Homo sapiens: one gene and its partner. The protein of the gene in region 1 purifies or fractionates together with the protein of each later gene. This does not show direct contact. Each region holds a gene or a part of one and is shown in the gene's direction. Other genes may lie near its edges.

Region 1 (3,834 bases):
TTATATCTGTGTATTCCATATCTGACTCTATATTTTTAAGACTGGTTTACTTGTAGTTGAGGCTAATCTTTCATAAGGTGTTCGTCGATCACCTGTTAACATTATTCCTATGCCCTTAGCCCAGAAATTCTGATACAGTAGATATGAGATGGGGCCCATGAATCTGCCTTCTAATTAATTCATTGACACTTAGAGCTGGAGGATTCTAGTTTTAGGCCTTGGTTGTGATATATAAAGTAACCAGTGTCTTGAAAGAGTACAAGAGTGTATCTGGATTTTCACATTTATTCTCATTTGAATCACACTGATTTAGTTTATCTGCACATCGTAGAAATCGATTCTTCCATTGGGGAATGTTGATCTTAAAACATACTTCCAAATAGACCACTTCAGCTCATACATTCTCTTCTCACCTATCACTGACTACCTTTTATGAAAGCTGAAATTACTCTTAATAAGTGAAAATTCACATATATGAGAAATACTGTGTAAAATTATATTAAAAACCATTTATCCAAATATTTTAGATAAATTTAAGTAGTCAAAATTTAAAGCTATTAGAATTCTGAGCCTAATTTCCTAATTGAATTGAATGTAAATATTTTGACAACAAATTTTCTCTGTAAGACACAAATATTGTTGATAACATTTGAAGGCCTGTATAGCACCTTTATTTTATCTGGCTGCATTGTTTAGCCTCTTTAACAAAGATTATCACTCTCCTGACTTGTTTATTATTCAGTGTATTTCTTTAACAGTATATTTTAACAAAAATTATCATACGAGTTATATAAAGTATGGTTTCATTTGTTTGTTGTTAGTTGTCTTGTCTAGAAGGGATGATTTTATCTCAGTTTCTTCACTGAATTTTTCAAATATTCTATGAAAATGGAAGTTTGTCTTCCTCTTGCTAATTAGTTCGTTCACTGGTGAGGGCAGTGATAACATTCTGATTGGCTGTTATTGAAATGTTAGATATTTAAGTTATTTTGGGATAGAAAGTTCTATAAGAATGAGTTTTTTTAAATTTTAACTTTAATAACACTTTTTACTTGCGCTATCTCTTGGCAAAATTTTGTTTGTTTTCAGGTAAATTTTTGAAAGTGGAAAAAAAAATCAAAGCACTTTCTTATCTTTCCTAGATGTTTCATGGAACAGTCACAGAAGAGCTAACCAGTCATGAAGAATGGAGTCACTATAATGAAAACATAAGAGAAGGTCAAAAAGATTTTGTTTTTGTGAAGTTCAATGGCCTTCATTTAAAGTCTATGGAAAATTTGCAGTCTTGCATCTCTCTTAGAGTATGCATCTTCTCAAACAATTTTATTACAGATATTCATCCACTTCAAAGTTGTATAAAATTAATCAAACTTGATCTCCATGGAAATCAGGTAAGCAATAGCCATTTCAGATATTTGCATATAAACGAAATTTCAGTCTTATAATAAGTACTTATGTTACCTATCCACAGTATTTCTTCAACATGGTCTTTTGTCTAAAATATAAACAAAAATTTAACAATAAATTAAAAGCATGTAAGATGTATATAAATACGGACACTTTGATGTAAATGAAAATACATAAATAGTGTGTAATCTGGTATGTTTCACTTCTTAAATCTATAGCCTGGATTAAGAATGCCTCATGATTCCTTAATTTTCCTTAGGTAAGGAAAGTATTTTAGAAAAGTTTAAAGAGTCAACCTATTACAAAGAAATTTTCTTTGAACAAAAAAGTATGGTTATGCATTTTACTATGCGAATAATAATAAATTATCTCAGATACCCAGTGTATTATGGTTTTCAACTGGCCATCATTGGATAATTATAAATACTCTGTTTGCTTATTAATTAGAAACTTGCTATTTGGGGAATATTGAATTTTATATGTGTAATATTTTACCATTTTCTGTGCTATTCGAAAAAAGTAATTTTGGAATTTAAAAGATTTTTAATAATATTTCAGATAAAGAGTCTACCAAATACCAAATTTTGGAATGGATTGAAGAACCTAAAACTACTCTATCTTCATGACAATGGGTTTGCAAAGTTAAAGAATATATGTGTATTATCTGCCTGTCCAACCCTCATTGCCCTCACTATGTTTGATTGTCCAGTAAGCCTTAAAAAAGGATATAGACATGTTCTTGTTAACAGTATATGGCCTCTCAAAGCGCTGGATCATCATGTGATTTCTGATGAAGAAATAATTCAGAACTGGCATCTTCCTGAAAGATTCAAAGCATGTAACCATCGACTTTTCTTTAATTTCTGCCCAGCTTTGAGAAAGGTAATTGGCTTCTTTAGGGTTTCATTTTAATTAAATGTATAAAAGGGAAATTTTAGCTTCTGAGTTCTATATCTAAATTATATAAACTTTTTAATATTTTTGCATCATTTATATAAAATAATATAAACCAATGAATATATTTGTAATGTCTTTCTATCTGAAACTTGATAAAAGTTTGCATGCCAACTACATTAAACAAAGCCTGAAATGATCAAATTGTAGAGAAACAAATTTTTGTTTTTTAAATTGAAAGTAAATCTCTAATTTATTCAGAATTTGGTATATGAAAGACTCCATTGAGAAATACTTAATGTTTTTTAAGAGCGTTAAAGGATGACTTAGATTATTATTAGAAGATAAAATATTTAATTCTTACACAATTGATTTGGTTATTTGACAAGATAAAACCATCATTATCTATTGATTTATAAAATGTTAGAAGAAGTGATTGTGAAAAGTTGATACCAAGTTAACGGATACAGACTAATTAAGTGGATTTACAAAAACATAAGGAAACGTTCTTTATAACACATGAATAAATATTAGAACAAATCATTTAAGAGTTCAAAAGAGGGGGTTAAATTAGGTACAAGATATAGTAACAATAAGTTGCAGGAAATGTTTGTAATATGTTCTAAAGATATGTGAAGTCACATATATGTGTGTAGAAATTTTGAGGAAGAATAGAACATAATTTTGAACAGTGAGTATATCTAAAAGAATATATAAACATTGAACAGTGATTATGCGTGGAAAAACTGAAAATTACAAAGTTGGAAGAATTTTATTACTGCATATAATTTTTTTAATTAGGGACATATTAGTGATTTTGTAATAGTTTTAAAAATTTAGGATTTTGGTAATAATTTTGTACTAATAGTTAAAAATATAAAAAACAAGGTAGTATTTAAGTCTGATATCTTAACCTGGGCCCTAAATAAAGAATTTCACTTAGGTACTTCAGTTGCGTAGTATGGCATAATGAAAGGTGGCAACAGGCATGACCCTTTTAAGGATAATCGAAGTGACAGATTCATTTAAGGAAGTAATGGAAAGTTGGGCAGTGGGCATTGAGAAAGAACTTGGATGACCTACTAAAGAGCTTAGACTTGATGAATATAATGAAGATTAATTGAAATTATTTGAGTAGGAAAATTAGGGTAGGTCCCTCATAGTAAGTGCTCTATGAATAAATGGTATTGACAAGGTTTTTAAAAGGTGATCAACCCAACATTTTGCTAGCAGATTAATGGAGGATAGAAGCCAAATGAGGGCAAGGGGATCAATTACTGTAGGTTCAAAATGATGTGATTAGGATTGATATAGGCAGATACCAGTAATAAAGAAGAAAGAACACAGTGTAGAGGACAGACACATATTCAGTGAATGCCATTGTGGTAGGCGCTTTATACATTTTATTTCTTCATTCTTTCACCAAGTATATACTGAGTACCTAATATATGAAAAGGACTGTCTGGGACTTGGAGATTCAGTGGTAAATAATACTGACAAAATTCTTGTCCTCATTAAGTCCAAGGGAAAGGC
Region 2 (3,834 bases), on another chromosome or scaffold:
TGAGCTGAGATCGCACCATTGTACTCCAGCCTGGGCGAGAAGAGTGAGACGCCGTCTCAAAAAAAAATATATATATATATATGTATATATATTTTCAAGGCCAAGCATGGTGGCTCATGTCTGTAATCCCAGTACTTTGGGAGGCCGAGGTGGGAGGATCACTTGAGGTCAAGAGTTTGAGGCCAGCCTGGCCAACATGGTGAAACCCTGTCTCTACTAGAAAAAAAAAAAAAACATGAAAGTTAGCTGGTCATGGTGGTGCCTGCCTGTAATCCCAGCTACTTGGTAGGCTGAGGCAGGATAATCGCTTGAACCTGGGAGGCAGATATTGCAATGAGCCGAGATCCCTACTGCATTCCAGCCCAGGAGACAAAGTGAGACTCTGTCTCGAAAAAAAAAAAATTATATATATTTATGTATGTATATATATATGTATGTATAGATTCATATAGTTTATGCTTCTTTTTAAATAGTTTCTGATTCTTTTTGGTATACCCTGATTAAGTGTTTTTTTCCTTATGAAAACTCTTAGGTTGGGAATGAGATAGTAAGAGGGGTCAAGAAGACTAATATTTTTAAAAAATCTTGGGAAGGCTTCATGTTTAATTAATATTGATCATTATTATTAAGGAAGTATTTTATGTGCTCTACAAATATAAAATTGGCTTTCTTACAGTTAAAATTGTAAATGTTTACTGTGATCATTTGCCTCTAGATTTTTATTTGTGGCTGGTTTTTTACTAAAGCATAGAGGTATATCTATTCTTTTTAGTTAATAGTCTGCAGAAGGCATTCTTATTATACATTTATGTATATTATTTATAACAGCACATAGGATTATTTTAAACTAATCATAATTTTCAGGAACATATTGATCCCATAACGGCTCTGTGGAATTATATACATTAAATTACCTTCAGTTACTATAAATGTACTTTATGTTTGCTTTTTTAACTCCTCACTGTTTCTAGTTCAAGTTATCTCATGAACTATGATTAAGGTAAAGAATAACATTTTTGTTGCTTTCAAAAGATTACATCAAATATGGACTCTGTGGGTCGAATACAAATGCGAACAAGACGTACACTGAGGGGCCACCTAGCTAAAATCTATGCTATGCATTGGGGATACGATTCCAGGTTTGTACCTGTCATTACCTGTCATTTTTAAACTGTTGCAGAATTATTTTCATTAAGAACCATCATTTGCATTTTCTTTGTTTAAAAACAGAATATATTCATGAAGCGTTTGCAGAAAATGCATCTCAGATGAACATGCTGCTTTCAATAAGAATATTAATTGACTCTTTAAAAGTATAAACATTTTTAATATGGAATCCAGGACAACTGTTCAGAAGAGGATTCCTTTTCTTTGCAGTGGAACATTGCAGACATTCTTTGTTTTTTAAATAGGCACAAAGCGTTTTTACTGTATATGAAGCTTGAAATTTCAGTTCATAAGCAAATACGTATTGAACACCTATGTGCAAGTTTTTGGATATTGCTATAGTTTGTTATTACATAAATTCGCAAATAATGGAAATTACATGAAACAAAGGTGTTTGTACTGAATACATCTTTTACTCCCTCGACTGCATCACAGAAAGGTGTGTGCTTGAATGTGCAAGCTGACCATCTGCAGGTGCACAGGCACACGCACAGCTGCTACGTGGCCTACAGTTAGATAGATTGCTCATCACTGTCATTCACTATGTGTATAAGGCTACAGCACAGCCTATGTTTTTCCATTGTCTGGCAATAGCAGATGTGTCTGCTATCACAGTGGTTTACTTGTTCCTTTGATTTGGTTAATCTTAATGGGAAATGCCTAAACCAAGAAACTTCTATGTTTTAATAGAAGTTGCACATTTATTCTCTTCTCCCAGGAGACACTAAAATTATAAAGTAGAAGAAGCCTCAATTGTTGCTCTAATTGGGATACTTGACCACAATAATATAGAACATGTGCCTCTTACGAAGGGATACATAAAATTATATAATTGGCAACTGACATAATGTCTTAATCTTTTTCTTTTTCTTTTCTTTTTTCTTTTTTTTTTTTTTTTTTGAGACAGAGTTTCACTCTTGTTGCCCAGGCTGGAGTACAATGGTGTGGTATCGGCTCACTGCAACCTCTGCCTCCCAGGTTCAAGGGATTTTCCTGCTTCAGCCTCCCAAGTAGCTGGGATTACAGACATCCACAACCACGCCTGACTAATTTTTGTATTTTTAGTAGAGAGGGGGTTTCACCATGTTAGCCAGCCTGGTCTTGAACTCCTGACCTCAGGTGATCCAACCGCCTCAGCCTCCCAAAGTGCTGGGATTAATCAGGTGTGAGCCACCGCGCCTGGCCGAATGTCTTATTCTTTTTCTTAAAGGAGTTGAAGATAAAAATAATTTACCTGTTGATAAAGCAAAATTTTAACTTAAAATATAGTAACTTGAAACAATGTTTATGGTTCTTGCTTTCCTTAAACGTTTTCTGAAGACTGTTAATCTTCATAGAAAAATGAAACCATCATCCAGGAACCTATCTCACATAGTCTTCCCACCCATCCGTGTTATCAATCCATTACTTAATGTTCTCCTCAACTCTTATGCTGATGATGCCAATTGATTTCTAAAGAATTTTCTTTAGATGCCATCCTATACCCCACTATCAGATAGATCTTCCCTTTTGTAAAACCTTGTAGTGATTGCTACCCAAGAATCTGATAATGTTATTTACCTCTAGGGAAAGGAACTGGGTGGCTGATGATAGGCCCAGGAAGGTGCTTTTTAAATTTTCTTCTGTATATCCTTTTTTATTTTTTGAATTTTACACCATGGTGAAAAGTAAAAATTCCAAACAAGGCTGGGCATGGTGGCTCATGCCTGTAATCCCAGAACTTTGGGAGGCCAAGCGAGTGGATCACTTGAGGTCAAGAGTTCAAGACCAGCCTGACCAACATGTTGAGATCCCATCTTACCAGTCGTGGTGGTGCACACCTGTTATGCCAGCTATTCGGGAGGCTGAGGCAGGAGAATCACTTGAACCTGAGAGGCGGAGGTTGCAGTGGGCTGAGATCGTGCCATTGCACTCTAACCTGGGTGTCACAGTGAGTGTCTGTCTCAAAAAAAAAAAAAAAATCCAAACAAAACAAAAAATTTAGTGGCTAAAATTACTTAGGAGTTCATACTCTTTAGTTTAACAAAGCTTTCTGCAGTTTAAGCCCAGTCTGCTTTTCTCAACTTATTTTTCCATTTTCTCACAAACTGTACTACTGGAAGACCCACAATTCCTGAAACAACACTCAGTGTATTTTTCTACCTGTCATTGATCTTACATAGCTTTCTCCTAAAATACAGCCTTTTCTGTATCTTTAGCTCTCAACATTTTCTTTCAAGACTCATTCTCTTGTGATTAACTCATCTAGCCATTGTTCCTCCTTTACTCTCCTGTGGCATTTATTTTATACCCCTCTTCTGACAGTTTTTACTTACTTGATTTAATATAAATATGAGTAAATGTCTTATCTTCACCAGATGGTAGAGGCCTCAAGAGCAGGCGATGTATCCTGCGTTGTACCTCTAGTATTGTCATATTCTCAGGCTCTCAATTGGTGTTTTTAGATTGGATGAAATATGGTTGTTAGGCTTCTATGTACATTCTTGTCATGAAATTTAAGTAAGTCAGTAAGTACTAAACCAGTCAGCTAATATCCACCCAAATCTTGTATAACTAAGATGTTGTTACCACAAAAATGTTTAATCATAGCCAGACATTTTTAGTCAGTTGCTAAATTTTATTTTATGAAATATGTTCAAGATTTTTGGCATGCAGCATAAATTTTTT

Evidence for each region.
Region 2: the proteins of LRRIQ3 (region 1) and GNB4 purify together in Homo sapiens (affinity purification with mass spectrometry, with the first as the bait; one large-scale study listed by BioGRID). This does not show direct contact.

Annotation. Positions count from the first base shown.
Region 1 is NC_000001.11:74,180,993-74,184,826, reverse strand, and holds part of LRRIQ3 (leucine-rich repeat and IQ domain-containing protein 3), read left to right. Parts: intron 1-1,142; coding exon 1,143-1,391; intron 1,392-1,965; coding exon 1,966-2,289; intron 2,290-3,834.
Region 2 is NC_000003.12:179,416,704-179,420,537, reverse strand, and holds part of GNB4 (guanine nucleotide-binding protein subunit beta-4), read left to right. Parts: intron 1-1,032; coding exon 1,033-1,139; intron 1,140-3,834. UniProt on the Homo sapiens protein: Guanine nucleotide-binding proteins (G proteins) are involved as a modulator or transducer in various transmembrane signaling systems.